2 linked regions of the Homo sapiens genome follow. The protein of the gene in region 1 interacts with the protein of each later gene in a pairwise test. Each region holds a gene or a part of one and is shown on either strand. Other genes may lie near its edges.

Region 1 (17,008 bases):
CAACTGGCAAAATTGGAATATAAACTGTAATTTCTTTTTTCTTTTTTTTGAGACGGAGTCTCGCCCTGTTGCCCAGGCCGGAGTGCAATGGCGCGATCTCGGCTCACAGCAACTTTCGCCTGCTGGGTTCAAGCGATTCTCCTGCCTCAGCCTCCTGAGTATCTAGGATTACAGCCGCATGCCTCTATACCCAGCTAATTTTTGTATTTTTAGTAGAGACGGAGTTTCACCATGTTGGCCAGGCTGGTCTCGAACTCCTGACCTCGTGATCCACCCGCCTCGGCCTCCCAAAGTGCTGGGATTACAGGCGTGAGCCACTGTGCCCGGCCCTATAAACTGTAATTTCTGTCACTTCTAAATTTTCTGATTTTGGTAACTACACTGTGAATACGTACATATTGTTATACACATTGAATACTGCTGCTCTTAGGAAATACACACTGATTAAGAGGTAAAGGGAAATAACAGGCAACTTACTGTCAAATAGTCGAGAAAAAAAATGTGTGTTTATGTGCTTGTATAATCAGAGAGAGAGAAAAAGAGAGAATCATAAAACAGATGTAGCAAAATGTTAAAAATTGGTGAATGTGGGTAAAAGGTATATAGAAGTTCTATGTACTTTTTCCCATAAATTTGAAATTATCTGAAAACAAAAAGTTTTAAAAAGTATGTTAATCTATTTTCTTCTGGCATAAACTTCCAAAGTGTTGCTGTGGAAAAGTCTGATAACAATCTAAATTCATTCCCTTATAAGTAACTTATTCTTTCTGCCCAATTGTTCAACATATCTTTCAAGTGTAGTAATTCTCTTAGAATTTGTCTTGGTGTTGGGTGTTCAGAGTCAATACTCTGAGATACACAGTGTGCTCATTAAAATGTGTATTTTCAATTAATTTTTTTAATTTCAGTAAAGCTTTCTTGAACTATACAGCCTTTACTATTTGTTCATTCAGACAGTTGATGGTAATATAAACTTAAGCCTGGCCAACATAGGGAGATCCTGTCTCTACAAAAAAAATTTTAAAATTAGCAGGGCATTGTGGTGTGTGACTGTGGTCTCAGCAACTCAGGAGGCTGAGGCAAGGGCATTGCTTAAGCTGAGGAGTTGGAAGCTGCAGCAAGCTATGATCATACACCACTGTACTCCAGCCTGAACAACAGAGTGAGACCCTGTCTCTATAAAATAATAAATAAATAAACTTTAAAACAGACTACAAATCTGAAAGTTCTATTATATAAAATAGTAACTTTATTATCCATTCATTCCAATATTTATTATCTATGATATGACAGGTATGCCTATTCTACAAAAATAAGAAATGGAAAATAATACCAAGTAGGTCAATTAATCATCTACTGAATTATTATTCCCCAAATGACTTCAGGTTGTTAGTAATACAGAGAAGCAGTATATTTTAGAGTGCTCAGTTTCCACCCATTATTTTGCCCTACAACTACCATTCTGTTTAATCTTAACACTTGAGTGGTACAGTGAAGAACTATTCTTTAATATACATAAAATTCAGCCTGCTAAACACTCTTTAAGAATGAGATGAATATTAAACAACTGAAATTCAATTAATAAGTTAGAGATCCACTTCCCACTGTTTAAAAAGGCACTTAGCACTATATTGACAGTAGAGTCAAATTTATTTTCACAGTAGAGCCAATTTATTACTATGCCATACCAAATTTAAATCAGAAAAAAATCATAACTCAATTTTTAACATTTTAAGACTACTGAAGAGCCAGAAATAAACACTCAGTAAGTATTATTAGATATATTACAGAACAATTTGAACAAAGATAATTATCTTACCATCTCCAAAAGTATAGCCTGAGTTTTAGCCTCTTTTTCTGCCTTTATTTCTTCTACTTCCTCAGCTGATCTTCCTTTGAAATCATCAATTTCTTCATCTGCTCCTATTCGACCACTCTGTTAAGACAGAAGTTACTCATGTATATATTTAAAGAATAAAAAAATCTGAGAAACATAGAAGACATACTTTATTCTTAGTTATATCAAACATGCTAAAACAGTAACTGATCAAGGTTGCAGTGAGCTACAATCACACCACTGCACTCCAGCTGGGTGACACAGTGAGATCTTGTCTCTAAAAAAAAATTTTTAATAATTAATTGGACAGCAACTGAGACAAACTTATAAACCTCCAAGAATTGATTTATATTAATTCTAAAATATTAGCCAAAGTGGGCTTCTGTTAAAATCAAAATAGGCCAGGCATGGTGGCTCGTGCCTGTAATCCCAGCACTTTGGGAGAACACGCAGGTGGATCACTTGAGGTCAGGAGTTCGAGACCAGCCTGGCCAACACAGTGAAACCCTGTCTCTACTAAAAATACAAAAATTAGCTGGGCGTGGTGGCATGCACCTACAATCCCAGCAACTCAAGAGGCTGAGGCACGAGAATTGCTTGAATGAGGAAGGCAGAGGCCACAATGAGCCGAGATCCCACCACGCACTCCAGCCTAGGCAACAAAGTGAGACTCCATCTCAAAAAAATAAATAAATATTTATATGGACACTATTTATTATCCAATTCTAACTGCTGAATGAAGAGAAATGATCTGACAATTAAGCACCAATCCCAACCATAAAGACAAATTCAGCTTTCAGGAAGCCACATAAACCTTAAAATATGTGGGGGAACAGTCTGCGCTGTTTCACAGAAATTTCTGGGTTCTAGCCTGGCTCCAGAGTGTCCCCAGTTGAAAAGTTACCTCACAAGATAACAGTTTAATTTGATGACAAGAAAAACACTTTCCCAAGGTGTTCATGTAAGCTTCTAGAGCTGAGGTTGTCTCAGTAGAAAAGAAACTGAAGAAAGGAAATTAGAGAAATGAGAAGACAGCTAGAAAAATGAGTACCTCTGTGGAAAAGAAAAAGAACTCCAAACTTGTTGAATATAATTAAGCAAGATAATAATTCGGAAAAAATTAACTTTAACAGATGAAAAAGATAAATCCATACAAATCATTAATATGAATGTACATTTAATCATAAGAGGGCTTTACTTACATCTAATTGTTCCCTTGTAGGTTCTGGTGATCGATCAGGGATTAATAAATCAGGAGGGTCATCAAATGGATCATCTAAAATCACCGTATGATTTATCCTTACAAAATAAATCCAAATCAAATGTTATACATTGAAGTTATTTCAGAATCCTATTTTATTTTAATAGATTACAAAAAATTACTTGATTATCTCTAAGGCCAAAAAAAACCCATATTGCATATGGATATTACTAACCTAGATATACTTTCACAATGAGTGTTACTGTTTTGCATTGAGTGATACCATATTTATCACCCTGCATTACTTTAAGATGTAAACTAATATAACTGTCTAAATCTTAGTACTTTTGCCCTACTTCTCAATTAAAAAACTAAATTAAAGCATTAACAATTCCTCCAGCTGGGTGCAGTGGCTCATTCCTGTAATCCCAACACTTCAGGAGGCTGAGGTGGGTGGATCATGAGGTCAGGAGATCGTGACCATCCTGGCTAACATGGTGAAACCCCGTCTCTACTAAAAATACAAAAAATTAGCCAGGTGTGGTGGCGGGCGCCTGTAGTCCTAGCTACTTGGGAGGCTAAGGCAGGAGAATGGTGTGAACCCGGGAGACAGAGCTTGCAGTGAGCCAAGATCGCGCCACTGCACTCCAGCCTGGGCAACAGCATGAGACTCCGTCTCAAAAAATAAATAAATAAATAATTCCTCCAAACATAATTATAAATAATTAGTACAAGTATAAAAATACAAAAAGTCCTTTTTATTATAAAGATTCTTACAGTCTTATATTAATTCACCTTTTGGGATTAGAATTATCCAGAAACCAGTCCTATGCATACCGTTCCTATCCATACCACTACGTGTTAAACATCTCAATATTAAAACATTCTAGTACATTCAGATAGCAAATTGTAACCATACCTGATATCCTGATATGGTACAAAGTCCTTGTCAACAAAGGTCTCATTAATTTTCTTAATTATGTCCATGCCTTCTGTCACCTCACCAAACACCGTATGGACACCATCAAGATAATCTAGATTTTCTCCTGTGGTGATAAGAAACTATAAAGAAGGACACATAATAAATACCATAAAAATAATACATAACTCAAACTGAAATCAGTTACAGACTGACAAAAAAATACATGAAAGTTAAGAGTCCACATTTACTGCACCAATTCTTAGACACTTGTTACCAAAACTAAGTAAAAAGTACAAAGCTTATACTGGCATACCTCATTTTATTGCACTTTGCAGATACTGCATTTTTTACAATTAAGGATTTCTGGCAACCGTGTATTGAGTAAGTCTATTGGTGCCATTTTCCCAACAGCATAGGCTCACTTCATGTTTCTGGCTCACATTTTGGTGATTCTCACAAGATTTCAAACTTTTTCATTACTATTGTATCTGTTATTACCATCTATAATCTTTGATCTTACTACCGCAATTGTTTTGGGGCACCACAAACTGTGCCCATATAAGATGGTGAACTTAATCCATAAATGTTGTATGTGTTCTGACTACTCCACCAACCAGCCATTCCCATCTTTCTCCCTCTCAGTGCTCCCTATTCCCCGAGACACAATACTGAAATGAGGCCAATTAACCCTACAAGAGACTCTTAAGTGTTCAAGTAAAAGGAAGAATGGCACATCTCTTACTTTAAATCAAAAGCTAAAAATGATTAAGCATAGTGAGAAAGGCACGTTGAAAGCCAAGATAAGCGGAAAGCTAGGCCTCTAGTACCAAACAATAGCTGAGTTGTAAATGCAAAGGAAAAGTTCTTAAAGAAAATTAGAAGTGCTATTCCAGTGAACACATGAATGATAAAATGAAACAGGCTTACTGCTGATATGAAGAAGGTTTTAGTAATCTACATAGGTCAAACCAGCCACAACGATCCCTTAAGCCAAAGCCTAATTCCAAACAAGCCCTAACTTTATTCAATTCTATAAAGGCTGAGAGAGGGAAGGTAGCTGCAAAAGAAAGTCTGAAGCTAGCAGAGGTTAATTCATGAAGTTTAAGGAAAGAGGCCAGGCGCAGTGAATTACTCCATCTCAAAAAAAAAAAAAAAAGAAAAGAAAAATTTAAGGAAAGAAGCTGTCTCCATAATTTAAAAGTGCAAGGTGAAGCAGCAAGTGCTGACACAGAAGCTACAGCAAGTGGCCAGGTGCAGTGGCTCACGCCTATGTAATCCCAGCACTTTAGGAGGCCGAGGCAGGCAGATCACAAGCTCAGGAGTTCAAGACCAGCCTGACCAACATGGTGAAACCCTGTCTCCACTAAAAATACAAAAGTTAGCCAGGCATGGTGGCGTGTGCCTGTAATCCCAGCTACTCAGGAGGCTGAGGCAGGAGAATTGCTTGAACCCAGGAGGCGAAGGTTGCAGTGAGCTGAGATCATGCCACTGCACTCCAGCCTGGGCAACAGAGTGAGAATCTGTCTCAAAAAAAAAAAAAAAAGAAGCTGCAGCATGCATCAAGTTATCTGGAAGATCTAGCTAAGATCACTGATGAAGATGACTTCATGAAATAACAAATTTTCCATGAAGACGAAACAGCCTTATATTGGAAGATGCCACTTAGGACTTTCACAGCTAGAGAGGAAAAGTCAATGCCTAGCTTCAAAGCTTCAAAGACAAGCTGACTCTTCTGTTACATGCTAATCCAGCTGGTGACTTTAAGTTGAAACCAATGCTCACTGACTATACCAAAAATCCCAAGGCCGTTAAGAATGATGCTAAATCGGCCGGGCGCGGTGGCTCACGCCTGTAATCCCAGCACTTTGGGAGGCCGAGGCGGGTGGATCACGAGGTCAGGAGATCAAGACCATCCTGGCTAACACGGTGAAACCCCGTCTCTACTAAAAATACAAAAAATTAGCCGGGCGTGGTGGCAGGCGCCTGTAGTCCCAGCTACTTGGGAGGCTGAGGCAGGAGAATGGCGTGAATCTGGAGGTGGAGCTTGCAGTGAGCAGAGATTGCGCCACTGCACTCCAGCCTGGGCGACAGAGCAAGACTCCATCTCAAAAAAAAAAAAAGAATGATGCTAAATCTATTCTGCCTGTGCTCTAGAAATGGAACAACAAAGCTTGGATGACAGCACATCTGTTTACAGCAGGGTTTATCAAATATTTTAAGATCACTGTTGAGACCTGCCGCTCAGAACAAAGATCCTTTTAAATATGACTGCTCTTTTAATAAGAAATCCTTTTAAAATATTACTGCTCATTGACAATACTCCAGGTCACCCAGGAGCTCTGATGGATATGATGTACAAGGAAATTAATATTGTTTTCAGCTGTGCACAGTGACTGACACCTGTAAACCCAGCACTTTGGGAGGCTGAGGCAGGTGGATCACTTGAGGCCAGTTCAAGACCAGCCTGGCCAACACAGTCAACATGGTGAAACCCCATTTCTACTATAAATACAAAAAATCAGCCGGGCGTAGTGGTGCACACCTGTAATCCCAGCTACTCAGAAGGCTGAGGCAAGAGAACTGTTTGAACCCAGGAGGCAGAGGTTGCAGTGAGGTGAGACTGCACCACTGTACTCAACCTGGGTGACAGAGTGAGAATCTGTCTCAAAAAAAAAAAAATACTGTTTTCATGCCTGCTAACATAACAGTCATTCTGCAGCCATGGATCGAAGAGTAATTTCAACTTTCAAGTATTACTATTTAAGAAATACAGCCTGACATGTGGCATGCACCTGTAGTCCCAGCTACTCAGGAGGCTGAGGTAGAAGGATCACTTGAGCAACGTAGTGAGGCCCCATCTCTAAAAATAAAAATTAAAAAAAAATACATTTTGTGAGGCTATAGCTGCCATAGATGGTGATTCCTCTGATGGATATGGGCAAGTACATTGAAAACCTTCTGAAAAAGATTCACCATTCTAGATGTCATTAAGAACATTCGTGATTTGTGGGAGGAGGTCAAAATATCAACATTAACAGAAGTTAAGAAGAAGTAGATTCCAACCCTCATGGATGACTTTGAGTGGCTCAAGACTTCAGTGAAGGAAGTAACTGCAAATGTGGTGGAAACTGCAAGAGAACGAGAATTAGAAGTAGAGCCTGAAGATGGGACTGAATGCTGCAATCTCATGATCAAACCTGACCAGATATGGAGCTCCTTCTTAAGGATGAGCAAACAAAGTGGTTTTCTTCCTTTTTTTTTTTTGTTTGAGACAGTCTTGCTGCATCGCCCAGGCTGGAGTGCAGTGGTGCAAAGTCGGCTCACCGCAACCTCCACCTCCCAGGTTCAAGCAATTCTCCTGTCTCAGCCTCCCAAGTAGCTGGGACTACTGGCGCCTGCCACCACGCCGAGCTAATTTTTGTATTTTTAGTAGAGACGGGGTTTCACCATACTGGTCAGGCTGGTCACAAACTCCTGACCTCAGGTGATCCGCCCCCCTCAGCCTCCCAAAGTGGTGGGACTACAGGCATGAGCCACTGCACCCAGCCAAGTGATTTACTGAGATGGAATCTACTGCTGGTGAAGATGCTATGATAACTGTTGAAATGACAACAAAAGGTTTAGGATAGTACATAAACTTGGCTGATACAGTAGTAGCAGGGTCTGAGAGGATTGACTTCAATCTTAAAAGAATTCTACTAAATGCTATCCAACAGCATCGTATGATACACAGAAATCTTTCATGAAAGGAAGAGTCCATCAACATGGCAGACTTCTGTTGTCTTATTTATTTATTTATTTGCAAGACAAGGTCTGTCACCCAAGCTGGAGTGCAGTGGTACAATCACAGCTCACTGCACCCTTGACCTCCTGGGCTCTAGTGATCCTCCCACCTCAGCTTCCCAAGAAGCAGGAACTACAGCCCTGTACCACCATGCTCAGCTAATTTTTGTATTTTTTTGTGGAGATGGGGTTTTCACCATGTTTCCTGGGCTGGTCTCGAAATCCTGAGCTCAACCCATCTGCCTGCCTTGCCCCCGCAAAGTACTGGGATTACAGATGTATGCTACCACGCCAGTCAGTTGTCTTATTTTAAGAAGCTGCCACAGTCACCCCAACCTTCAGCAATCACCACCCAGATTAGTCAACGGCCATCAACATCAAGGCAAGACCCTTCACCAGCAAAAAGATTATGATTTACTGAAGGCTCAGATGATCAGAAGCACTTGTTAGTAATAAAGTATTTTTTGGTCGGCCACGGTGGCTCACACCTGTAATCCCAGCACTTTGGGAGGCCAAGGCAGGTGGATCACCTGGGGTCAAGAGTTTGAGACCAGCCTGGCCAACATGGCAAAACCCTGTCTCTACGAAAAATACAGAAAGTAGCCGAGCGTGGTGGTGGGCATCTGTAATCCCGCTACTCGGGAGGCTGAGGCAGGAGAATCGCTTGAACCTGAGAGGCGGAGGTTGCAGTGAGCCGAGATCACACCACTGCACTCCAGCCTGGCTGACAGAGCAAGACTCTGTCTCTAAATAAATAAAATAAAATAAAATAAAACAAAATACTTAGACAAGCCATGACTCAACTTCATGTGTATATAGTAGAAAACAGAAGTACCTACTCTAACAAGTAGGTCATTGGGAGAATTAACAGGGTCATTGGGAGAATTAAACAAGACAATGAATAGAAGGTACTCTGCGTAATGTTTTTAAAAAAGTAAGAAATACTGAAAAACGGCCAGGCGCGGTGGCTCACGCCTGTAATCCCAGCACTTTGGGAGGCCAAGGCAGGCGGATCATGAGGTCACGTGATTGAGACCATCGTGGCCAACATGGTGAAACCCCGTCTCTACTAAAAATATAAAAATTAGCCAGGTGTTGTGGCAGGCGCATGTAATCCCAGCTATTCGGAAGGCCGAGGCAGGAGAATTGCTTGAACCCGGGAGGGAGAGGTTGCAGTGAGCCGAGGATTGTGCCATCGCACTCCAGTCTGGGAGACAGAGTGAGACTACATCTCATAAAAATAAATTAATTAATTAAATAAAAAGAAATACTGAAAAATGAGCCACAAATGTGAACAGTGATAATCACGGATGGTGGAGTTGTAGGTAATGTTTTTCTTTGTACTTTTCTGTATTTTCTCAATTCTTCACAATAGGAATGCTTTACATTTAAAAGAAGAAAATAATATTTTTTAATATAGAAAAAGTGCATTTTTTCCCCTAACACATATTTCTGATTGAAACCCTCTAAGCCTTACTGGATAGTTTAAAAAATAACTCTGTGGGCTCCTTCCAGTCCTTCATTTCTAAGCAAATCTCATATTCTTACTCATTTCCTAACCTGAGATCCATGTTGATCACTGCCATTATTCACCATGGACACTGTGCCTTTCTTCTTGTGCTTAATTCTTGGGACTTTTTCTGCCTCAAAAAAGCTTGCTTGATCACCATACAGTTGGCTGAAAAAACATATAAGGTTATAAATGTAAGTACTCTCAAAATGAAATACAGAAGTACTAGTAACATACAGGGTTATCAATTATTTCTTTACAGAAATGCCAACAGAATTCAAAATATTACTTTTTTTTTTTTAGGGAACTTGGGGGAAAAAATCTAAATTTAAACCATATTTTAAAATGCAGATTGAAGCATGAGCAATTATATTTTTCCTCATTTAAGAATAAAAGAATTTGTTCTGCCCTTCCAGAGGTTAAAAGTAAATAAATAAATAAATAAATAAATAAATAAATAAATAAAACAACTTACCCAAAGATAGACTCTCCTCCACGGCCAGTCCCTGTAGGATCGCCAGTTTGTATGATAAAATCCCTCTGTAATATGTAGGATTCTTTGTTAATTCACAGAGTTTGTTAGATAGTTCCAATAACAAAGGAAATGACTAATATCTACCAACTCACCTGTACATTGTGAATAAGGCAATAATTGTAATATTTTATTTTGCACAGTTTCAAGAAATTCAAGCAGGCTGAAAGAAAGTAAATACCAAATTTATCACAGTAATCCACAAACACATTTTTAAATAAGTAAAGCCACAGTAAAATGTAATTTCTAAATTACTATTAAAAGAAAAAAAAAGTCAAATGTCCAAAGCTATAAAAAAGGGCAATAGGCCGGGCGCTGGCTCACACCTGTAATCGCAGCGCTTTGGGAGGCGGAGGTGAGTGGATCACTTGAAGTCAGGAGTTTGAGACCAGCCTGGCCAATATGGTGAAACCCTGTCTCAACTAAAAATACCAAAAAAAATTAGCCAGGCATGGTGGCGGGCACCTGTAATCCCAGCTACTAGGGAGGCTGAGGCAGGAGAATCACTTGAACCCAGGAGGTGGAGGTTGCAGTGAACCAAGATCGCACCACTGCACTCCAGTCTGGGCAATAGAGCAAGACTCTATCTCAAAATAAAATAAAATAAAATAAAATAAAAGGGCAATAAGTCTAGAAAAAAAACATTTTAAATTACCTTTTTTTTTCCTTTAATAGGAGTTTTGGGGCATCTGGGCTAATACAGAAAACTGACACTTATAAGCAATCATTTACTGATGGATTGATTTTATTACGAGAAAAAAGAACACTTAAAGAGCATATTGTAGTAGAAAAGGATCTAGCAGAATATATAAAAATGGATACGGATTATATCAATTAGGAAAAAGTCAAACACCCGGGGTCATTTTTTAAATAATAGTTAAACAGCCCTTTATAAAAATCCATACACTTATGAACAACCTTTCTCATACAAGTTAATCTGCTTATCCAATAAACATTTACTGAGTACCTTCTAGATGCCTGACACTGCCATCACAAATGCCATTAAACTGTGGTCCCTGCTCCCAAAAAGTTCACAGTCTAGTCGTGGAAAGACACATTAACAAGCTCTTAAGGCACTAAGTTAGAAACCAAACAGACAGTAAGATATATGAGGCAATCCCTGCCCTCAAAAAGCTTACATTAAATTAGGGTCCTTACATCTGAACACAAGTAGTTACATACTGGGCATATCTAATTAATAACATGTGTGCCACTTATTTAAAATGGTAAAAAAAGTAGTTTTAAAAATTCCACAAGAGTTCAAAAGATTGTTTCTGGCTAGGGAAATTAGAAAACCTCAGGGAAGGTTAAGGCAAGCATTAAAAGAACTGGACTAGCAGAGAGTGAAGGGTGAGCATTTTAGGTCTGGAAGACTATGAAAAGGCCTGGAAGTGGAAATTTAAATGTTTTAGGGGAGGTCCAAAACACCAAAGTTCTGTAATAGTCTGGTATTACACAGTAATAGAGCATGAAAAGACTGGAGAGATAAGATGGGGCTGAGCTGTTGAAGAGTGCTGAATATCAGTCTTGCAGTTGTTTTTCTTGAATATATTTCTGGGCTTCATGTTTAACAGATAGGGGTGGTCCTTTTACTAGAAACAAAAATAATGAATTTAGGCAATGATCATCAATGGCTGCCAAAATCTTTAGGTCTTTCATCAAAATCCGATGGGAACAATTTATAAGCGCAACAAGGCCTTAACCCACTGACCAATTTTAACATCACAGAGCCAACCAGACATCAAGTGCCTCCTGAATGTGATGCAGCTGAAAGTACACACTATCTTATATGAAATATTCTTGCCAAAAACATTAAACTGGAACCTAATCAAGGCTCTGAAGCTAAAGAACAATTTATAGGAAACAGGGGACACAAAAATATGTTAACGCACCCAGTAAATAATCAGTCGAATCCAAACAAGAGAAATTCTACAAGACAAAGCACCCAGGTTGTTTCTCAAAATTTTTTCAAGGAAAAAAGGGGGAGAACCAATAGATTAAAACATATATGAGACATTTTAACCAATATATGGACTTTGGGTCCTAATTTAAATCACCATATTTTTTAGAAGTTTATGAGATAATAAGAAAGTTTAAATGATACTAAAAATTATTGCTAGTTTTTTCAAAGTGTGATAAGATCTGTGGTTCTGTTTTTTTATTCTTTTTTACAACTTTTTCTCTTTCCTTTAGTATTTTTCCCTTTTCCCTGTCAAGTTTTTTTTCTTTTTTAACCTGTCACTTATGTGGTACTTAAGCTCATAGTTCCATTTTTTCTTGTTTTTTTTAAAGAGACGTTATATTTTAGAAATACATACTGAAGTAATTACAGATTAAATAGATGCACTGGAGGTGGGGGTATTATAAATGAAGCAAGATTGGCTATGTGTTCACAGCTGTTAAACAAAGCTGGTCATGTGGACATGAGAGTTCATTTACATGATTCTCTCTACATCTGTGTTTTAAATTTTCTATAATAAAAAGTTAAAAAAGAAAAGGAAGAAAGAATGGAAGGTAGGTAAGTCTGGATATGTTGATCATAGATTGATAAGTGAGTATAAATATAGCAGGTACACATGTAAGCACATCTCCAGTCATATGCTTACAAATATGTACAGGGGGTGGACTTATTGTTATGGGCTTATCTTTGCAGACCCACTGCTTGTTAATTGGGTGGGGTAGCTCTACACCCCTTTATTTCCTCATAACTCTGGGAAAAGAGGCCCATTTATTTTGCCAGGTGCTACTCTACATGGGCAGAGCGTCAAAGGAACTCAAAGAAAAGCAAAATCAAGAGATAAAAAACAAAATTCCCTATGATATTCTTTGAAACACTCGATCCAGCCACTCGATCCAAGCTTACCCCAGTATTATGAGGCAACCAATTATTTTGTTTATGCCAGTTTGAGTTGGGTTTCTATCACTTGAACAAAGGGTCCTAACTAATACAACACATTTATATCCATTAGTCATCATAATGAACCTCTAGTGTGTGCCCTAAAAGTAGCAGACATTGTACTGGGTACTCAGGATATAGAGATGATAATTATGGTATAGTTCCTGCTCTCATTGGAGTTTACATTCTTGAGCGAGGGCACGCTTGTAAACAACACCAGGATAATAGGTAAATGTTAAAATAAAATGTGTCATGTGGTTTATAAAAGACCTAAGACACAGCAGAGGAACCCTCAGGTAACTCTGCTTAGAAAGGAGGGAGAGCTTCAAAGAAGAGATGATGCTTGATCTGAGATTTAGATAATAAGTAGTAAGTTTGCCAGAAGGACAATAGTGGAGAAGAATATTGTTTAGAAGAAACAGCAAAAGAATGGTAACAATGGTACGGGAGAGTTTGTAGTGTTTTCGCCAGGTGGAGAGGAGGGAGGAATAGCTGCGTGCGAGGGAAAGCGGAGCACGGCAGGAGGTAGTTATTGTACAATATTGCAACTTATTTCACCTTCTTTGATAGGCTCTGCATTCCATGTGGGTAGGACCCTGTTTGTAACTAATCTCTCCTGGTCTCAGTTTCTTCCTGACTCTGATACATTCTCCACACCGCTGCCTATTATCTTCTCAAAACAAGTATGCCATGCCTCAATCCTGCTTTTAAAGTCTTCAAGGACTCTGATCATCAGTAGGGCACACAAGACTATTCACGACTGACCTAGGCGTATCTGACCACACTCGAGTCTACCATTCCACGACTCACACCAGTCCTTCCAGCCACACCAAACTACTTGCCGTTTCCAGAAAATTCCAAACAAAGAAAGTCCAAGCTAAGAAAACCCTCATTCCCATTCATCTTTGAAAGAACTAGTTCAAGTGTTCTATATAGTATTCGCTAGCTTTGCTTCTTCCCACCCCCCACCAAAGAAGCCGCCCTCTTCTGGTTTCCGTGGCAACTTACACATTCTTCTACCATAACACATAGAAAACTAAAATGGGTTCCTGTGTCTACTTCCCCCAGTGGAAAAATCAGACCCTCGGGGGCAAGAAGCCAAGCCCAGGACTTAGCCCAGTGCCTCGAAGGCTCAGTCCACACTCCAGACAACCTCTTCCTCCTCCACCTAAGCGGTATGCCCACACTCGCTGCGCCAAGCACACCCTAACTGCCTTCATCAAGATTTAACCGATTACACACCAAGCAATAGTTCCTATGTTCCTCTCACGAGTAAACACAATAAAGGCACAAAAGCTATGGGTATTGTATGTGCAGCTCGAATCACACACACACACGCCCCACACACACACTCCCAAAGGCAATTAATGACCGCAAGCACCGTCCACCGGACTGGCCAACACAAAATACGGGAGAAGGGCTGCCAAGGCTCAAACGAATTCCCGTCACAAAAACTTTTCTAGCCAAGGCCGGTTAATAAAATAGCCCAGTCGCGGGCACCAGCAGCCCAGAAGCTCGAGCTCTAGCCAATCTCTGCCCTGGACTGCGCAGAGAAGGGAAAGTAGGGAGACAAGCTCGGGGGCCCCGGCGACAGGTGAGTGGGGCTCAAGCCTCACCACGCGGCCGTTCTTCGGTGTACAAGTCGATGACGACGTCGCCTAAAGTGGTCTCCAGTAGAACCGCCATGGCGCCCGCTCCTCCTCCGCTACAAACCCCGGGAGGAGGGGGGTGACAGGCGCAGGCCGACGGCGTCGTCTACGCCACGCGTCACCCTCGGCGCGACCCCTTTTGCGTCATCTCGCCGGCGCCGCCCCCGGTTCCGAGCAGTTCCTTCCGGTCGGCGTGCGGGCGCCGGGCTGCCCAGCTGACTTACGGATCGGGTTGGTCCCGCCCCCGGCGCGGCCGTTTTGAAAATCCTGGTCCGCCCTTGGCGATTTTGGTGGAAGCCTGTCCCTCAGAACGGTCTCAGTATAGTGTTTTGTGCCCCGTTTGTGTCCGTCTCAAGAGCAGAGCGGCCCTCCGCGCGGCCCTTTTATCCACCAGGGGGCGCCCGCGGCGGGATCTTCTCTCCACCTATTTGGGCGGACTCCTCCGGGTTTCCTCGTCAGTCTCCTTTTCGCAAAACAACTTTGGGCCTCTACTAGGGGTTTCCGATTCTAAGAACTAACATTTTGTTTTGTTTTCTGTTTTGAGACAGGGTCTCGCTCTGTTGCCCAGGCTGGAGTGCAGTGGCGCGATGTCGGCTCACTGCAACCTCCACCTCCCGGGCTCCAGCGATTTTCCTGTCTCAGCCTCCCAAGTGACCACAGGCGCGCGCCACCACGCCCGGCTAATTTTGTTCTTTTATTTTTTGTAGAGATGGCGGTCGGGGGAGGTGGTCTCACTATGTTGCTCAGACTGGTCTCAAACTCCTGAGCTCAAGGAGTTCGAACTCTTCCCGCCTTGGCCTCCCGAAGTGCTGAGATTACTGGCGTGAGCCACTGCGCCTGGCCAAAACTAACATTTTGCCATGCAAGTTTATTCCCCAGACACTCTTCTGGGCAAGCCTGTCACTCTTTCTTATGACATTTTACACATAATCTCCAATAACTTCACATCTGACGAAAAGCCAAAGCTTTTTTTTTTTTTTTTTTTTTTGAGACGGAGTCTCGCTCTGTCGCCCAGTCTAGAGTGCAGTGGCGCGATCTCGGCTCACTGCAAGCTCCGCCTCCCGGGTTCACCCCATTCTCCTGCCTCCGCCTCCCGAGTTGCTGGGGCTACAGGTGTCCGCCATCACGCCCGGCTAATTTTTTGTGTTTTTAGTAGAGACCGGGTTTCACCGTGTTAGCCAGGATGGTCTCGACCTCCTGACCTCGTGGATCCGCCCGCCTCCGCCTCCCAAAGTGCTGGGATTACAGGCTTGAGCCACCGCACCTGGCGGAAAAGCCAGAGCTTTTATAATGATTTACAAGATCCTCTCCTACCCCATCCTACGCCATCTTCTTATTCCTCTGAAGCCACAGTAGACAGTTTGCTATTCCCTGAACACTGCTGACATACTCCTGCCCCATGGCCTTTTCACTTGCCTTGGTTGAGGGACCTCTTCCTCCAGTTATTTGTATGGCTCCCATTCACCTCCTTCAGGCGCTTTGGCGTCGGTCACCCTGTCAGTGAGGCCCTCCATGGCTGCCATAATTAAAATTAACCCCACAGACACTTCTTTTTCTCCATATAGCTTTTTCTCCAGAGTACATTTTACAATCTAACATGCTATTTACGAATTTGTTTGTTTGTTTATTGTTACTAGAATGTGTGTTCCAGGATATTCCATCTTGTCTGTTTTGTTTAAAGCTATATCCCTAATGCGTATGACAGCCTGGTACACAATGTGCAAATAAATGTTTGTTGAATGAATAAATATGGTTTTTCGGTTTGGGTTTTTTTTTTTTTTTTTGAGACGGAGTCTCGATCTGTTGCCCAGGCTTGAGTGCAGTGGTGCGATTTCAGGTCACTACAACCTCCGCCTCCTGGGTTCAAGCGATTCTCCTGCCTCAGCCTCCCCAGTAGCTGGGGCTACAGGTGCCCGCCACAGCGACTGCCACCACAATATTCATGGCTGGGCGTGGTGGCTCATGCCTGTAATCCCAGCACTTTGGGAGGCCGAGGTGGGCGGATCACCTGAGGTCAGGAATTTGAGACCAGCCGGGCCCATCATGGTGAAACCCCGTCTCTAATAAAAAATACAAAAAAAAAAAAAAAAACTAGCTGGGTGTGGTAGCGCATGCCTGTAATCCCAGCTACCCAGGAGGCTGAGGCAGGAGAACTGCTTGAACACGGAAGGTGGAGGTTGCAGTGAGCCGGGATTGCGCCACTGCACTCCAGCCTGGGTGACAGAGCGAGACTCCGTCTCGAGGAAAAAAAAAAAAAAGAAAGTGCTCCCATACCATGTTCCATTTATGCCTGATATGTGTTTAAGGGTTAAAAGTAAAGCCAACAAAGGGAATCCTAAGACTGTGAGTTCTGGGTCATTGTAAGGTTCCTCAGTGCTGTTGAACTGAGCAAACCATTTAGGACAGACCCAACAATTAGTCTTGTTGTAGAAATGGGCCATGGCGGATATTGTAGGAGCTAAAGGGTGTGACGTATTACTAAGTCCCATAAAAAATCCTAACAGACCTAGTGATAGTAAAACACTCATGTTTACTGTTGGTTAATAACTGTTATTCCTGCTGTAAGGATAGTAATTAAGCAAAATGCTACAGTAATTGAGATTCTGTTCGATATTACACCCTGAGGGTGCTATAGTATATAGTAATACTTGGCTTAAAAGGAGAGGTAGAAACGGCAA
Region 2 (17,008 bases), on another chromosome or scaffold:
TTAGCCACAGCAACACTAGTAAATGGAAAGCACATCACACGACCCGCGAAAACATCTACTCATTAATGACAGTCTTTTAAATAAATGGTTGCATGCTCAGTTGAGAAACCAAAGAAGTTATCGTGGTGGCCTAAAAATAGAGCTGGGATCAGGAATGGCATTCTGGTGTCAGAAAACTTCTGGGAGCAATATTGATGAAAGTAGGCCTTGACCTGAAACTGGCGAATTGCAGACATGGACATATCTTTAACATTTTGAGCAATCTAAGGAAGTCTCTGGAAATTTAACTTTCATGAGAGGGAGAATGCATTGCTAGCCCTTCCATTGGCAAAGGAAGCCTCAGGACTATGGGAAGATGCATAATTTTGCATTTCTGTTTTGTTTTGGTGACTGTAGCCAGGCAGACAATGATGTTTAGCGTAAGATGAACAATGCCTGTTTTTGGAAAGAGACTCTCATTCTAAGCTCCGATGTTCTTACTGTGAAGAAGCCCCATCACTCTGATGGCTCTATCTCTTGCTCTCCTACCCAGCCTACATGCTGGTTTGCTGCACAGTGTGGCAGAATCCCTGCCAGGTCTGGATGTACCCCAGAAATAAGGCGATGGGGCTTAGTCTGGGCATGCACAGAACCCAGAGTAGAGTGGTTATTATCACTGAAAAGTCTCTCCCCAAACACCATGGGCAAAAGCAATGCTGATGTCGCCATCCACTCTAAAGTGGGAAACCAACTCTTCTAGTTCAGTTTATAGGCTTTGGGAGGTTTCTTTTTTTAAATCATCGTTATTATAATTGTTAAAAAATAAACTTGGTCCAGGTGCAGCTCCAAGAAAGGCAGTTCAGTTGGTTGAGCTCAAAGTCATTAATTGTCTTTCCTTGTGACTCTATCTCTTTGCTCTGTACATAGAAACAAAAAAGTCTGCACCCCCTCACCCCCAACCAGACACTTCTCTTCTCTCTCTTCCTCAAAGAAATAGTGCATCTAGGAACAGATCTCTCATTGGCTCTAGTACCATCTCTGGATGTTACAAAACTCTCAGTTACTCTGTAAAACAAAAAGGTACTAATCCTAATTACTCATTGTTGGCCAAAATGCTAAATGGTCCTTTAAGAATTGTATGTCAGTAACTAGGAACAAAGTTATTCAACTATTTGCATGGCAGGCTCAGGTTATTTAACTAGAGGAAAGCAAAAACTTCCCTTTAGATCATTTGCATAAGTTTGTCTCTGAAAAGCCATCAGCATAAAAAAATGCATTAACCAAATGTCTTCCAAAAATATCCATGAGGGCAACTCATTAAGGGATGTGCTGCATGAGAGTGTATCACTAATGTGGAAGGGAGGTAAGTGAGGAAGAAGTCTTTGTCAGACTTAAAAGGAACTCAGATGCTCTTAACAGATCATTGGCAACAAAAGGGAGAGTGCAACTTTCAGGTCTTGAATTTGATCATCTGCTGATGTTGCATACATTTAGTCTTTCAATATTAGTCTTTACAAAATATTTCACAAAACTTTTTTAACCTATAGAAATTTGTTTCTATACATTTAATATATTTTTATTGTATAAATTATTCTCATCTTTAGTGCCTTCTTTCAGTTTATAAATGGCAAAATAGGCAATCAACAATCATAAAGCTAATCCCAGGTGGAATCCCCTCCTGTCAGTGAGGTTAGTCCTCCATACACTTGCAAATTTTATGAAATTCTTGTCTTTGCAGATGCCAGTCAAAAAACTACACACTTATCCTTCCCTGATAGTATGTCATCTCCAAAGGGATTCCTTTCTTTTTTCCTTCTTTCTTTCATTTGCTTGTTAAGAAATCAAAAGATGTGCATAGTTATAAAATTCAAAGTGTACCAATTACAGATGTGGGTAATGGGAAGGCTGATGAGGTTCGAGTGCTGGCAATTTTTCTTTAAAGCAAAAGACACAGAGAGCTCTGCAGCTAAATCAGCTCTGGACATCTGCTGGGGTGAGGAGGCTCTCATCTCATCTCTTGGGCAGAAAGCCCGTCAGAGGTTCATCCCTACACCTGGCACTTTGAGCAAACCAAAGCCTTCCTTCATACTGCAATGTCTTTTCTGTCCCACCCTTTGGCCCCTCTGTTTCCTTCATGGCTTCATACAGTTTGTGTTGTACATTCGTAAGAATTCACATTGACTGCAAAAACATAAATGCAACAAAAACATAAAAGCCTCCAAGTAGTATGTTATATATATTTTGTTCTTCTAAATGCTCTTCTGTCGTTGTCAGAGGCGCAGTAGCTAATTTATAACTTTTCCTTTGAGGGAATCCAGATGAAAGGCCCAGATTGCTCTTCAATAACAAGCTTGCATTGGTTATATATATCTTCTAAAGTATCTCCTTGGACAATAGCTGTAACAAAAGCAAACACACCCAGAATTAGAAATAATTTCCTGGATGGTGAAGAACAATCATCACTTACACATTGGAGGCTCAAATCAGTAGCAGATGACTCATCAGGAAGCTTCATATCATTTTTCATTAGTAAGAAGAAGCAGAAAATTCATATAAGCAAAGTTACATTCATGATTTTAAGAAATGCTTTCAATGGATATCCTGGATCAGTAACAAATGATTCACAGTCTTTGCACTTTCTACATGTCTGTCTGTAGTACTGGACAATTTATCACTCATCTATTTAACCAATATTTTATGGGTGCCTACTCTGAGCCAGGCACTGAGCTGGGCAATGATCAATTTTCAGACTGAGAGCTCCCTATTTAGAAAAGAAAACTGGCCTTACAGTCTGTATATTTACTTATTTTGGCAGCAGCAGAAATTCAGATATTGTAGACACCGAGGAAATAATGAAGATTTTAGAGGGAAGTTTAGTTAGCCTCCCAACCCTCAAAGCCCTTAATAGGAAAACCCATTAATTCCCCAAATCTCTGGTAACTTGAGATTTTTACCATACAGAGCTATTCATATTGAGAATACCATAAGTCCACTATTTATAAGAAACATAAACAGGAAGAAATATAAACAAACTGCTCAGTTGTGTATCTCCTAAAACACTAAGTCACTTGGAGTAGATTTAAGTACATTTTATTGTCTCATTTGAACAAAAGTTATCTTGTAGAAAGATTTCCAAAACACATCAGTATTATCCATATGACACTAGGTCTTAAAAATAAATTACTACTGAAAGATGATTTAGATATTTAAAAACAATCCTCAGAATATATTATTGTATTGTATACAAAATATAAACCACTGTCAAAATGTACACTTTTGTTTCTCCTACCTGGATGTTCTTTTAGGATGAAACACAGCTCGTATCTTGGTTACTGACAGAAAGATTACTTAATATTACCTGATTCAAGATATTTACAAACTGCTAAGGCACTGACACTTTCTATATTCTGAATAAGGTAAAAAATAAAACATCTAACTTCACATATGGTAATCCAGGAAGAAAGTTCTTGGGTTTTTTTTTTTTTTTTTTTTTTTTTTGAGACAGAATTTCACCCTTGTTGCCCAGGCTGGAGTGCAGTAGCACGATCTCGGCTCACTGCGACCTCCACCTCCTGGGTTCAAGTGATTCTCCTGTCTCAGCCTCCCTAGTAGCTGGGATTACAGGTGCCTGCCACCACACCCAGCTAATTTTTTGTATTTTTAGTAGAGACGGGGGTTTCACTATGTTGGCCAGGCTGGTCTCGAACTCCTGACCTCAGGTGATCCACCCACCTCAGCCTCCCAAAGTGCTGGGATTAGAGGCATAAGCCCAGCTCGAAAGTTCTTGTTTTTAAACCTCCGGGAACCAGGTGTAAGGCAAATTTCACAAAGTCTGATTACTCAGTGTTCTATGAAAGTATATAGGAATACAGAACTCAGAACTCAGGCTCTCCAGAAGAAAACCTCTATTCCCCTTCATGTTTCCAAGGAAACATTTAAAAAGAAAAAAAAAGCAGTTTTGGTTGAGACTTGACACAGTGAACTGAAACATGAGGAAGTTTTAAGCATCTTGTTCAGGTGCTGCTGATAGGGACACTGATGAAAGCTCATGGAGCTGGGGACGGACGCCTCCAAGCTTCTTCTCAAGAGTAACTGCTTTGGACACTGACCATTTTGAGCCCTAAAATTTTGTTTTTCAAGTTTTCTGATGATATCAGGGAGATAGTTTAATGAGGTAGCAATGCCTCAAATCCTTTTCATGGTAGGAGATAGCTCAGGGGTATCTCCTGCCCATGGTTTTGGGTAGGGCTGGTGGGAACCTGGGAGCTGGCTGCAGCTGAACTCTCAGGAGAACCCAGGGTTTTACATCAAAATGGGTGAAGCAGAGGGATACTCCTTGTATATGAAACAGATATTAGGGATTCTCAACAGGAAGGTTTTAGGGCACAAGTACACCAGGCCCAGAACCCTCTCTGTGCCAAATGTCAGACAATTTATCCCCTTTCTCACACTACCAGGGTAAAAGTGAACTTACCTGTAAAATATTCTCCAAATTCTTGTTCTAGCTTAATTGCTCGATCATAGGTTTTCTTGGCTTGTTCCTCTGTTAGACGCTTATTCATCTCCCTGGGAAAATGAGGGTTTGTATTAGAACATAAAGGGAATATTCCAAATCCTAAAAAATTAAAATGTATGGCAAAAATAAATCCTACAGAAAACATAGTGTAATCTTAGCAACAGGTTTTTAGTCTTCATTCAGGACTCCTCTGTGCTGGAATAATTTCAGCAACAAGGACTCACGGCCAGAAAGCTCATTCTCTCAAAGGGCAGTCTCTTGGTCCCACATTGGATTGAAGCCAAATATGTCTCCTTATGATTTGTAGTCACTGGTCCCTGTTCTGCAGGGACCTAATATCCTCCATGGTAGGCCCTAGGATATTTAAGTAAAGTGCTTAAGTGTGTCTTGAGGCTTCTACTTCTTCAGAATAAACTGTCCTATTGCTTCATCTATCCCCTCATTGGATGTGATTTCTAAATCTGAACTTTCCTGACCACCCTTTCTTGGAGTTTGTTCTAGTGTATCTCAGACTTTCTGAAATGTGAGAGTAGAATGGTAGTTATCAGAGACTGGGAAGGGAAGGCAGGAGGGGAGATGAAGAGAAGCTGGTTAAGGGGTATAAAATGCAGTTATAGGAATATTTCAAAATAGCTAGAAGAGAAGAACTGTAATGTTCCCAAAACATTTCTGGTGATGGATATTCCAGTTACCCTGATTTGATCATTACACATTGTATACAGGTATTAAAATATGACATATACTCCAAAAATTTGTACAACTATTATATATAAATTTTTTTTAAAAGGCTCAAGGATAAATCAAGGTGGGAGAGAAATGAAAAATTCTTGAATTCTCTCTAAAACCTAATCTATTGATTCTTAACTACTGGCAGCTTTATCTTTCCGGGTCTTCCAGGTGTTAAAAAAAAAATGTCCTGCCAAATGCAATTTGGTTGGCTGATCAGGATGCATCACAGGTGCATGTAGAATTTCTGAAATCATTACCGTCTTGCATGCTGCTTAGGAAGCCAGAGATTTGGGTCTGGAACATCTGGCCTTAGTCAATTCCTTTCGAGAGCAAGTAACAGAGGCAAGAAGGGATGTGCTTAAGGCTGTGTATTTAACGAAGAGTAATCTGGGGTAAGAACTCAAGGTTTTGGTTTTTTAAACCAATTTTCAGTTAGACTTCCTATTATACCAAGACTTGATATCTTTCAAAAGAGGCTATTTGGAAAAAAAAAAAACAATATATTGACATTAGACATTAATGGCTGAAATACAAAGTAGTGAGAATTTCCTGAACTCTTGTTGCTAAACTCATCTTGTCCTGAGGGGTGTTATGTATAATTTTTCTTCCAAACAGTCTCAGCTGTACATGCTGTGAATGGATGTTACTCGTGGGTGGAGAAGATGCTGGGCTAAACCAAGGGACACTCTTCAGAGAAAGATAAATATTTGCTCCAGATGTCAAGAAATCATGTGGGCCAGGCACAGTGGTTCACGTCTGTAATCCCAACACCTTGGGAGGCTGAGGCAGGTGGATCACTTGTGCTCAGGAGTTCAAGACCAGCCTGGGCAACAGGGTGAAACCCTGTCTCCACAAAAAAAATACAAACATTAGCTGGGTATGGTGGCACATACCTTTAGTCCCAGCTACTTGGGAGGCTGAGGTGGGAACATGGCTTGAGCCCACGAGGTCATGACTGCAGTGAGCCATGATGGCACCACTACACTCCAGCTTGGGCTGGACAGAGCAAGACCCTGTCTCAAAGAAAGAAATCACATAGTTCTGGATCATCTTCGACCTGCCTTCCAAGAATTCTGTCTTCTCTGAATTCCCTTTTTACTGATTACAGCAATGACTTAGTTTAGGTTTTTATTCTCTGACCTGTGAATTTATTTTGTCTCCTTGACTGATCAGTAATTCTTTGAGGGCGAAGACCATGGCTTGTTTGTCAGCATGTGGCATGGAGACTGATTCAACATTTATTTGTTGAATGAATAGATGAGTAAATGAATGAATGAATGAACAAATGGGGAGCTAGATAAACATAATTATAAGATAGTTGAAGACAGAAGTAAACACAGAGCATCATGGGAGCAGGAAGGTAAAAGCAGATTGGAAGTGGCAGGGTGAAGGGAGATTGCCACATGGAAAGGGAACAGAAGTCAGATGGTGGCACAATATAAAAAGAACATCCCTTTCATACACATCTTTGATTTTATGCTCCTCTGAAGAGTCAGCTATGTATGTGCTAATAAGCTCTGTGATTTGATGTGGATGATGCACTTGAGAAATAATGTGTGTGATGATGTATCAATGTGTAAATGTGACAGCTGTCATGCTTTTGTTCCGGCTGACCTAGCATTCACTACTCTCTGGGGAATGGGCAATTCATGGCAGCTTTGCTCCTGGAGTAAAAGCCTTGGAAAAGAGTGAACTGTAAAGTAAACATCCAACCTTTAGTAGGTAGATTGCATTGGTCTGAATGTCACCATCACTGCACTTGAGACCCATGAATATGGCTGCAGCAAATTATGTCAGATTCACTGTCCTTATTGTGAAGTCCAGCCTTTAGTACATTTAACTTTCCTTGGTGATAAGTGGCTGTGACAGTGCCCTAAGGCATAACTAAAATAAGTCATCTCATAGTTGTGGAAGGCAGTAGACCTTCTCCTATGGAATGCCAGATGGGACTGTCTCCTAATATTGCACCGGACCAAATGTGCCACTGCTGTCGTTCCCTCAGGCCTCATTCCCCTGGGAAGCCATTTATCCCACTGAGTGTTTACAATATGAAGATTTATTTTTCTATTTCTGAAACAGGCCTTTAAGATGGCTGTTCCCAGGAAGTAAGGACTATTTTTCTTCTCATTAATGTTAGCATTACTTATATTTATGAGGCTCTTGACAGATTATAAATCAATTTTACATCATGAAATTTGTACTTGCTTAATTCACTTTGTGCAATGCCCGACATAGTATCCTATACAAGGAGAAATTTAATACATGCTATTGGGGATGATAATATTAAGAATCATTATTTTATCATTAGTACATATTTTTCCATGTGCCAGCCATGGGAAAAACTCTTTATATTATAATTTAATACCTAAATTCATGGGGCTGAAGGTACTGTCAGTGACCTCCCGATCTTACTTTTTTTATCCTGGTAAGAATCCTTGTCCATTTTTTATATATGGGACTATATTCTGCTTTCAAGGTACATCTCTGGCTATTTCCCCAGAGCTCAACTATGTATTTAACTTAATTCTCTCAGGCTGCCACTCCAGCTGCTGCAGTTTGCTTTGCTTCTTTGTCTTCAGAGGAGACACAGAACAGTTAATATCCTCTGTAAGCAATTGCTTTCACCACTGGGATTAAATAATTTCTGTTTCTTCGGTCCTTCCATAAACATTATTTTCCAGTACTCTGTGGTTCACTCCTGAACCCTGTCAAACACTATGGTCTTGAGGCCCAGATGAAGGCAAAATTTGATCAAGGCCCTCATGACAGACACATTGGCATTATCTCTTGCACTGTCATGGAAGAGGTACTGTTTATGTGTTTTATAATGATAAAATAGTTTTATTCCTTTATAATGAAGTAATTTTATATCTTTTACAATAATAATAGGTATTATTTATTGAGTACTTACCATATGCCAAAGAGTACATGAACAGCTTTACTAAATTCCTAATCTTGTTATTTAACCTTTATACTAGCTCTATGAGGTATTTATTAGTATGCCTCGTTTCGAGGTGAGGAGCTAAATCTTAGAAAGGTCAAGCAATTTGCCCAAGGTTACTTAACTGATCAGTGGCAAAGTAAAGAACCAAATCTTGCCTGATCAATTTTCAGGTCCCTGCTGGTAGCCCCTTTTCTGGTTACCTCTATCTACTGTAGCTTCACCTTTGTGAATGGGAGTTGCCTATACTGACTTTACAGTCAGATCGTGAATGTCTGCCCACTTTGTTTAATGATTCTTGAAAGAAGTTATTTCACAAGTCCTTTGGAGGGGAAAAAAAAAGAAAAAACCCTGAGTGCACAGGTATGAAGCTACTGGTTTAAGTTACAGATGTTTTACTGCCACGCCACTAAGAAAACTCTATTAAGAACGATGTTCTATGTATGTAAAGTTTTAATTAAGGAACATCAGAATTCTATTAGAGAACCAAGGAAAATGCCAATGAAAAAAGTCTCAAACGTTGTCTGCTCTCTCTATAAAAAATCTACACATTTAAAAAGATTTACTTATAGACCTGCCTCAGAAGTATGAGACAATTAAAAAATGATTGCTTCCTATCATTTGGAAAACAAAAGCAAACCAAAAAACCAAATCAAGCCAAGCTATCCTCAAAACAACAACAACAAAACCTCAAAAACTAACAAAGAAAACAATCCGTGAAGTAAAACAATAAAAATCAGGAAACATTATTGAAGATGTTTTAAGGAATTACTATTATTGTTAAAATGAGGGATGTTAAAAAAAGAAATCACTGACATTATGTTTCTAGTTGTTTAAAAGAACTTTGATATATCTTCAAAAAAAGAGAATGCTGAAAAATCAACAATGGCATTTCCCATTTGTAAGCATTCCCAGCAAAATCCTGTTAGTAATTTTCAGTATAATACAGAACAGGGAGTCAGTTGGATGAAGGCCTCCAATGCCCTCTACTCACATAAGAGGTTCCAGAGACCTGGGTTTTATGAAGATGGCAATGGGATAGAGCTGGGCAACTTGTAACCGCTTGATAGCATTTCCTGATACATCAAGTATACAGTGTTTGCCCTGGTAGAAAGAGAAGAAAAATATGAAGTTAATATAGGAAGCATGGCCATAATCCAACAAAAGGAAACTAATGTATGTAGGTTTTAGAGGAAGGTAGGGGATGCTGGATTTCTAAAGTCAGAAAAAGATCACTGCAAAGAGTAAATAAAAATCGATATATAGGGTCATCATTGAGTGTTTACAATAACTAATACTAACTAGCCCCTTACAAAGTGTCTGCTACTGGACTGGACATTTTACATATGTTCTCTCAGTTAAATACCTGATGTAACACACAAAGATGACATGCAGCCGTATGTTATGTGACTGAGTCTGTTCTCATGAAGTTTAAAAACCATCTCTGAACACAATTGTCAGAAGAAATTCCCAAATCTCTGAGGTAGGTATTATCAGCTGCATTTTACAGAAGACTCACACTAACTAACTTGCCCAATAGTTTAGTGCTAGGAGCATGCAAACCCAAGTCTGGAGCACTAACAGAATTGTTGGTTGGAAAAAATAGACACCTCATTGTCTCACCCTGCCCAACATTCGGTGTGGAAGATTGAGAATAATGTGAATTTTTCCAAGTACTTGTACATATCCTGTCTGCAAGGTACTCAGTCTAGTGGAGGGCAGACACAAAAATGGTTAACTTAAACATATGGTTGGTTGGGTGCAGTGGCTCATGGCTGTAATCCTAGCACTCTAGGAGGCCGAGGCGGGTGGATCACCTGAGATCAGGAGTTCGAGACCAGCCTGACCAAAATGGTGAGACCCTGTCTCTGCTAAAAATCCAAAAAGTTCACCAGGCATGGTGGTGGGCACCTGTAATCCCAGCTACTTGAGAGGCTGAGGCAGGAGAATCACTTGAACCCAGGAGGTGGAGGTTGCAGTGAGCTGAGACCGTGCCATGGCATTCCAGCCTGGGCAATAAGAGTGAAATGCCATCTCAAAAAAAATAAAAACTATATGTATATATATATATATATATATATATATATATATATATATACACACACACATATAAAATATATAATTAAAACATATATATATATATATATATAAATTAAATGCGGGTTAAATGCCAAGAGAGAAAGGCTTGCATGAGGTATGTAAATTTCTTGTTTGTTAACAAATAAAAATGCTATTACATTATAGCACACCTCATTTAACTTGGCTTCCACCACAATGAGTGCTCAGAGCAAGCAGCTGCTTTATAAAGCATTTCTGGATATGCAGATACATTTGCCACATCATATTCTACCTCCTGGAGAGAAATGTCCTCATTACCCTGAGGCTAGAATAACTTTATGCAAGAAGAGAAAAAAGGCACTTTATGCAGATAGGAACAATACTAAATCAATAATAAGGGCTAAAATCTCATCTATAATGTTCACATGAAAATGAATACAGTCCAGTGAATACTTGAAGTCTTCTTATCTGAGAAACCCACTAAGATGGTTCAAGCCGTTATTACTTAGGTAATAGATTTCAAGTTTTCTATCTGTGAAGTGCAGCAGCCACATAACATGTATAAATGCTGGTTGATTATTCACCAGTCAGAACATTTCAAGTTAACAACATGAACAAAGAGGAAAATAGGTGCAATTATCCAGGACAGTTTGACTAGAACCAGTATTCATTTAGTTGATAGAACTGAACTTTTGAGAGGGAGGAAAATAGATGCAACTTCTTAGTGTATTCTTAGATAGACATCAAAATTACTTAATTCTTTAGCGGTACATTGAGAAAGGTCATGGCAAATCAAATCAACCCAACAAATATCTTCTCCTATGATACTGGTTCTCTGTGTTCACAGGAAATAGGATCCCTCTGTAGGCAGATTGTGTAGCCACACCCAGGTGCCTTCCTATGGTACCCTCTCTTGAACATTCTTCTCTTTTCCATGCCCCTGAAGTTACCAGCAAAAAGATAATAGCAGCATCTACACCTCCTCTAAGCTAGAACTTCTGCGAGCAAAAGGCTGGGCAGCCCTTCTCATCTATCTTCTCTTCTACCATGAGGATGTCAAGTTTTCAGAGAGAGAGAAAAAAAATAACTTCCTCTAACAAAATAATTCAGGAATGCTATCCCCTTGGTTTACAACTAAAGTAGTAAACCTGCCTTAATAAAATCAAGGTTGTGTATTGGGGCCTCAGATAGTGAGTCAAAGACAAAGCCCTCTTCCTACTTTTTCCAAGTCAGTGAGAATACTTTATTGAAATTAGAACAAAGATTAATGACATTGCTCTAAGGTGATTCTCTGCTTGGATGTTTTAAATTATTAAATCAAAATTTACAATTGCAATCAAGAAAGAGTAATGACCAAAAAAAAAAAAAAATGCAGTTTGCAACCTAGAAACCTTCTTCAGGGGAGGTGTAAGAAGATTGGTGAACATACTCTTTCTGCTACAAATCTCACAGACTGCACACTGGTTCCATATAAATTGTCATTGTACTGGCCGGCTTCTATAAACTTGTGCTCTTGGATATCTTTCTCCATTTGTTCTCTGGAAATGACAAAGTGATAGTCTCTGCCATCCACCTCGTAGTCTCGCTTTGGCCTCGTAGTATCTTTATAAAACAAAAAATGATAAAATTAAGGTGCATTTATACCCATAAACTTGCTTTACACCTATATTCTCCACCACATCCTCAACATTGATATGTAGAAATATGTAGTATGAAGAAATATGACATAGTAACAGGTACTAGTCTTACCCTCCCACCATAAGCAACTAAAAAACTGGACAAAATATATGAAACAACTGTTTTCAGATATCAGACAACAGGAAGTACAGGGCTGTAATCTTTGAGAAAAGAGAAACATATGAGAGAGCATTCACCCCACCTCTCTACCTAGAGGCCATTTCCAAATGGAGAGTTTAGACATCACATGGTGCTAGAAGACACGGGAGTTGAGTCAGAACCCATGGAGATCCCAGAAAGGCCACATTTTAAAAGGTTACTCTAGACTTACTCTACACCCATCTTCACAAAGTCTAAAACCATGTCACAAATGGAAGAAGCTGCTGTGTCAGTAAATTATCACCTGTCAGAACAAAAACTTAACATTCTATAAAGGACCATAAAATTCAGACTCTCAACATATATAAAATAAGATAATCACAGTTAGATAGGACTAAAAATCAGCAACTCTAACCATTTCACCTAAATTTTTTGGTAAGAAGAGAAGGGGAAAGCAATCTAGCAATATGAATAAAAGCTGTTAAAATATTTTTAATCTTTGACTCACTTATTTTTTCCTAGAAATATGTTTTTAAAAATGATCAAAACTTCAGATACAGATTTATCCTTAAAGATATTCATTATATTATTTTATAAGTAATAATTATAACACAATTACGATGATATTTTTGTCACAATTCATAATAGTGAAAAATAGGGAAAAACCAAAATGTTCATAAAGAATGATTAATTGGGATATAATAATCATTTGAAATAGTTATATAAAATTTTAAATAAGCAAAAAAATCATCACAGAGAAAAAATGCATGCATAGAAAGAATAGATGGAAATGTACAAAAATATTAACAATGATGTTATCTCTGGGTATTGTGTGGGATTTTGTATACTTCTAATTTTCTCGTTTAACTTTCTTTTTAGTGTTTTTGAAGTTTTGTACAATGAACATCTATTGACTATCACAAAATGGTTCTATTAATTCAAAAAAGAGAGAATATGCAAGGTGAAAGGGAAAGCAGAAAGAATGCTTAAGTACCTTCTGTTTTCTTTCTCTCAAAAGTGGAGGAGCAAGCTGGAAGCTTGCTGTAAACGACCTGGAGTTTCATTTGCTCCTTCCTGTCTGAAGACTTTCTCAGGATATGTTCTATGGCAGGATCTCTTCCCAGAGCCCTTGCTGGGAATTGTTTCATGAGATACAGCAATCATCCTAGTCTTTTGGCCATGTACTGGACACATACAATTCCTGCTATTCTTAAGTATCTCATGTAAAATTTGCAGTACTGGAATGTTAGAGACACTTGAAAGCATCAGGCTTAAAACACATAGAATGGAAGAGAAATATTTGTTGGTATCAGATGTAAGAGCTCCATTATCTAATAAATTAAAATTTCCTGATGGACCTGTCTACATACGTAGAAGGTCTGCATGCATTTCTGTTTGACAGAGTCGGGGTGTAGACGGGGTGAATGAGTGGAGAAAGTATGGTAGGGGTGGGGAGGGGAAGAGGCAGAGCAGTTAGAATCTAATAAGGCTACAATCAGAGGGACCAGAAGCCTGATGATAATCTATAATGAGAAGAAAGTAGTTTAAAGTCTGTAATGGCCTAGAGGTCAAATTGAAGTGTTACACATTTTCTTGTCTTCACCCTCCCTAAACCTGGGACTGTCAACATGGGAAAGCCTATTGGGTTTTGGGATTGACATATGGCCCTAAGTCATCCTGAGAGGATTTTAATATATGGCTTTGTTTCCGATCTCTTCCATCCTATAAAAAATAATGTTTCAGTGGCATTTTGATCAATCTATGAAAACATACTGATGCCTATCATAAATCCTATGCTGTTTTAAATGGTTGGGGGCCACAAAAATTCATCCTGCCTTTTAAGGGGCTACAATCAGTTTAGAGAAAACATTATTATTTTTATTAAATACAGAATGACACACGGCAGCATAAATGAAAAGTGTTAGGCAAATAAATTAAATAAGGCACTCAGCTAATCGGAAATGGTTGGTATTTGAATTACTGGAGAGACTACTGGAGGATGGAATTACATTTTACCATCTCATAAAGAAATCCAAGCTCTTTTTGTTTTTCCTAGAGGAAAGAAAAATGACACTTACGAGGCACACAGGAGCCAAATTTATCAGGGAATTCAGATATCAAGTCGTCATTGATCCGATCCTTCATGGGCCCCAGGATAATCACCGGCCGGGTGTAGTTTACTGCAGAATGGGAAAGGAAGATGTAGGTAAAGAGAAAGAGTTGGAAACAACTGCAAAACTGTCCTGCAAGGGTGATTCTTAATTGCCAGACAGTAAGAGATGCTAAGGGCATTACTTCACTGGATAAATTACTCATACAGCCTTGCATAGGGAAATTGATGTTTAACACTCAGGAGATTGGCAGTGCCTACTTTCTGGAATCTACTAGCAGGGAAAGGCAATTGCAGTATCTGTTGATGAAAAGAAACATTTGGAGGAGTTTTGCTTACTCTCTGGCTCTGCCTACATAATGTCAAAACAACTGAATTTAGTCAACTGAGTGGGAGAAAAAAGAATCCAAACCAGCTGTTTGGCTATTGTTTAGATATGACTATAAAAAGTAATTGTTAGTAGTAATAACATCTTATGTTTTCATGATTTCTTTTCCCCAGATCAAAATACTCTCTATACTTTGCTACAGTTTCTAGATTTCCTTGTATCTGGGATTAGAAGGAACCTGAGAGTTCATTGGGTACAAGTCCCCATCTGATGCTTGAATTCTCTCTGCAGTATCCTTGTCAGTAGCAATTAGCCTCTGTATAAATGCCTCCAGGAAAAAGCAGCAGCTTACAGATAGCCTACATCTTAGGCAGATCTGCTAGAAAGTCATTCTCAATACTGAGCTGACATCAGTCTCTCAGGAGAATTTATTCACCAGTCTCGTAGCTAGTGCTCTTTAGGTAATTTGAATGTGTTCCTTCCCATTGAGGACCACTCATCTGGAGGGCTGCATCCTTCTCTTAGGTGCTATTAGTGCCCATACTCAGCAGGAAGTTGTCTGTTTGGTGATAGGGTCAAAGAGAGAGAAAGTGAGAGACAGCGTAAGAGTAAGGTACGGTCTCAAGACAACAGAGCATTAAGCCGAGTTTATTCTCCTTAGTCCTTCACTCTTTCCCTCCTTCAATGATGTCACCTCTTATGGCCCAGAAATTAGGAATGAAAGCGTGCTGGGAAACTTACTTTCCTGCCTTGTAACAGGCTCATAGGAAAGAATGAGGTCTTCTTGTCCTCCTGAGAAGAGAAGGAAAGAAAACCACAGTGAACTAACAGTCATATATTACAGAGACAAGCCCTGCTCTGAAACACAGGAAACAGACACAGCTCAGAGTTAATTCTCCTTGCTCTTTCTCCTTGAACCATTCAAAAATAACTTCATCCTCATAAAACTCTTTAGCACCATTTTAGTATCAGATTTTCACAGTCATAACTCTAAGTAATAACTGGTTGCTAGCTATTTGCTGCAGGGCAATGACCTGTGAGACTTCTTTCTGTCTGGCATTGAGAATGGAATGCCATGGCCTCTACACCAAGCATTACTACTTAAAAGGAAGCCATTTAGTTCAAGGAAAGGGTCCAATTCAATAGATGGCTGCTACATAATCAGAATTGCTGTACCTTTTATTTCATCTTCTATTTTATTTCCCCAAGAAGCACACTGTTCAAAAGCAAGTATATGCTTATTTCATTTATGATATAAAAACTTCATCAGGACACTCAGGGTTTTACTCTAATATTAATTCGTCAGGAAAATGCTGTGGGTCAATTAATGAAGATCAAAAATTGAGGTGTGTCCTACATCATTGGTTATAATTGCTGCTAAACTGTGCGTTGAAACTTCAGATAGAGAACTAAGGAAGACACAGTAGTAAAATGTCAGCCCCTCCAATGTCATCTGCTACAAGCCTTCTGACTCAGGGTGGACCTCAAGTCAACAAATAACCATAGAAAGTAAATTGGTTTTTGCCATTTATTTTTTCAATCATCTATTTTATATAATTGATGAATTAATTGGTCAGAGGATTAGCTCAATTTCACCTGCAAACCCGGAAGTGTCTGCATTTTTTTTTGCATTGACTAACCTTTGGAACAGCAATAGGTTAGGGCTGTTGAAAAGAACTTTCTGTCTACTAGAAGAAATAGTGGAGCAGAAGTGGAATATGAGGTAACTTCTGAAACCAAAGGGCAATTCACCTTTGCTGTATATCCTCACCACCCACCCCTGAAGCACATTCATAGTCTATCAATGCCAGGTTTTCCTCCTTCAACAGCCACAGCACCACAGAAAGAGAGGTAATTTCATAAGAAGAGTTAATATGATCGACTGTTTTGATAATGAGACTGATTTGGGGAAATTGAGCAATATGTGGGTATAGCTGCGAAGTTGGATGACTTCCTTGGAGGCTGGGTAGCTGGAATGGGATGGGGATAGGAGTGTCTTACTTTTTCAAGTGTGAGAAATGGCCTCAGGCTGAAGTCATATCTTATCTCAGTCCCAAGGAGGGCCTGGGCTCAGAATGGCGCCACCATGCCAAGCTACTTCTTAAGGGTACAGAGAGTGGACCTTGATGCTCCTCCTAAGTGGTATGTACCCATGGCCACCCCAGAAGTGTTCAGGGGACTCTGCCACATTGGTCAGGGGTTTGGTCAGTGAGGAGTCAGATTCACTATTTCTTGTACTCAGGAAAAGAATGATTCCCTTTGAATAAACTACTGAAATGTACAGAGCCTAGGCCAAAAAACATGAAGGTGATTGATTACTAACCCCCAGTTATCTAAAGCCTGAGCGATGTAGAGGGTATACGCATTCAAGGTTTTAGTTTAGTATTACTTCATCAGGAAAATGCTGTGGGTCAATTAAAGAAGTGTAAAAATTCTTGGGGAGAAAGTATAGTTTTAATGATAGAAGCATCGTAGACTAACATTGCAATTTTAGACTATAACTTTACAGGGGAAATCTTCAACAATTAATGTGCAAGGGAAGAATTCTGACCATGGGATAACAAAAGCTTT

What was found.
Region 2: the proteins of PPIL4 (region 1) and DLG2 interact in binary tests that used the Homo sapiens proteins (3 or more experiments, as listed by UniProt).

The regions. Positions count from the first base shown.
Region 1 is NC_000006.12:149,531,639-149,548,646, forward strand, and holds the start of PPIL4 (peptidyl-prolyl cis-trans isomerase-like 4), read right to left. Parts: upstream 14,406-17,008; 5' UTR 14,368-14,405; coding exon 14,298-14,367; intron 9,949-14,297; coding exon 9,881-9,948; intron 9,794-9,880; coding exon 9,729-9,793; intron 9,422-9,728; coding exon 9,304-9,421; intron 4,101-9,303; coding exon 3,958-4,100; intron 3,137-3,957; coding exon 3,040-3,136; intron 1,937-3,039; coding exon 1,820-1,936; intron 1-1,819. UniProt on the Homo sapiens protein: PPIases accelerate the folding of proteins. It catalyzes the cis-trans isomerization of proline imidic peptide bonds in oligopeptides.
Region 2 is NC_000011.10:83,457,549-83,474,556, forward strand, and holds part of DLG2 (disks large homolog 2), read right to left. Parts: intron 15,230-17,008; coding exon 15,179-15,229; intron 14,180-15,178; coding exon 14,078-14,179; intron 11,826-14,077; coding exon 11,653-11,825; intron 9,270-11,652; coding exon 9,160-9,269; intron 4,546-9,159; coding exon 4,454-4,545; intron 2,377-4,453; coding exon 2,270-2,376; 3' UTR 1-2,269. UniProt on the Homo sapiens protein: Required for perception of chronic pain through NMDA receptor signaling. Regulates surface expression of NMDA receptors in dorsal horn neurons of the spinal cord.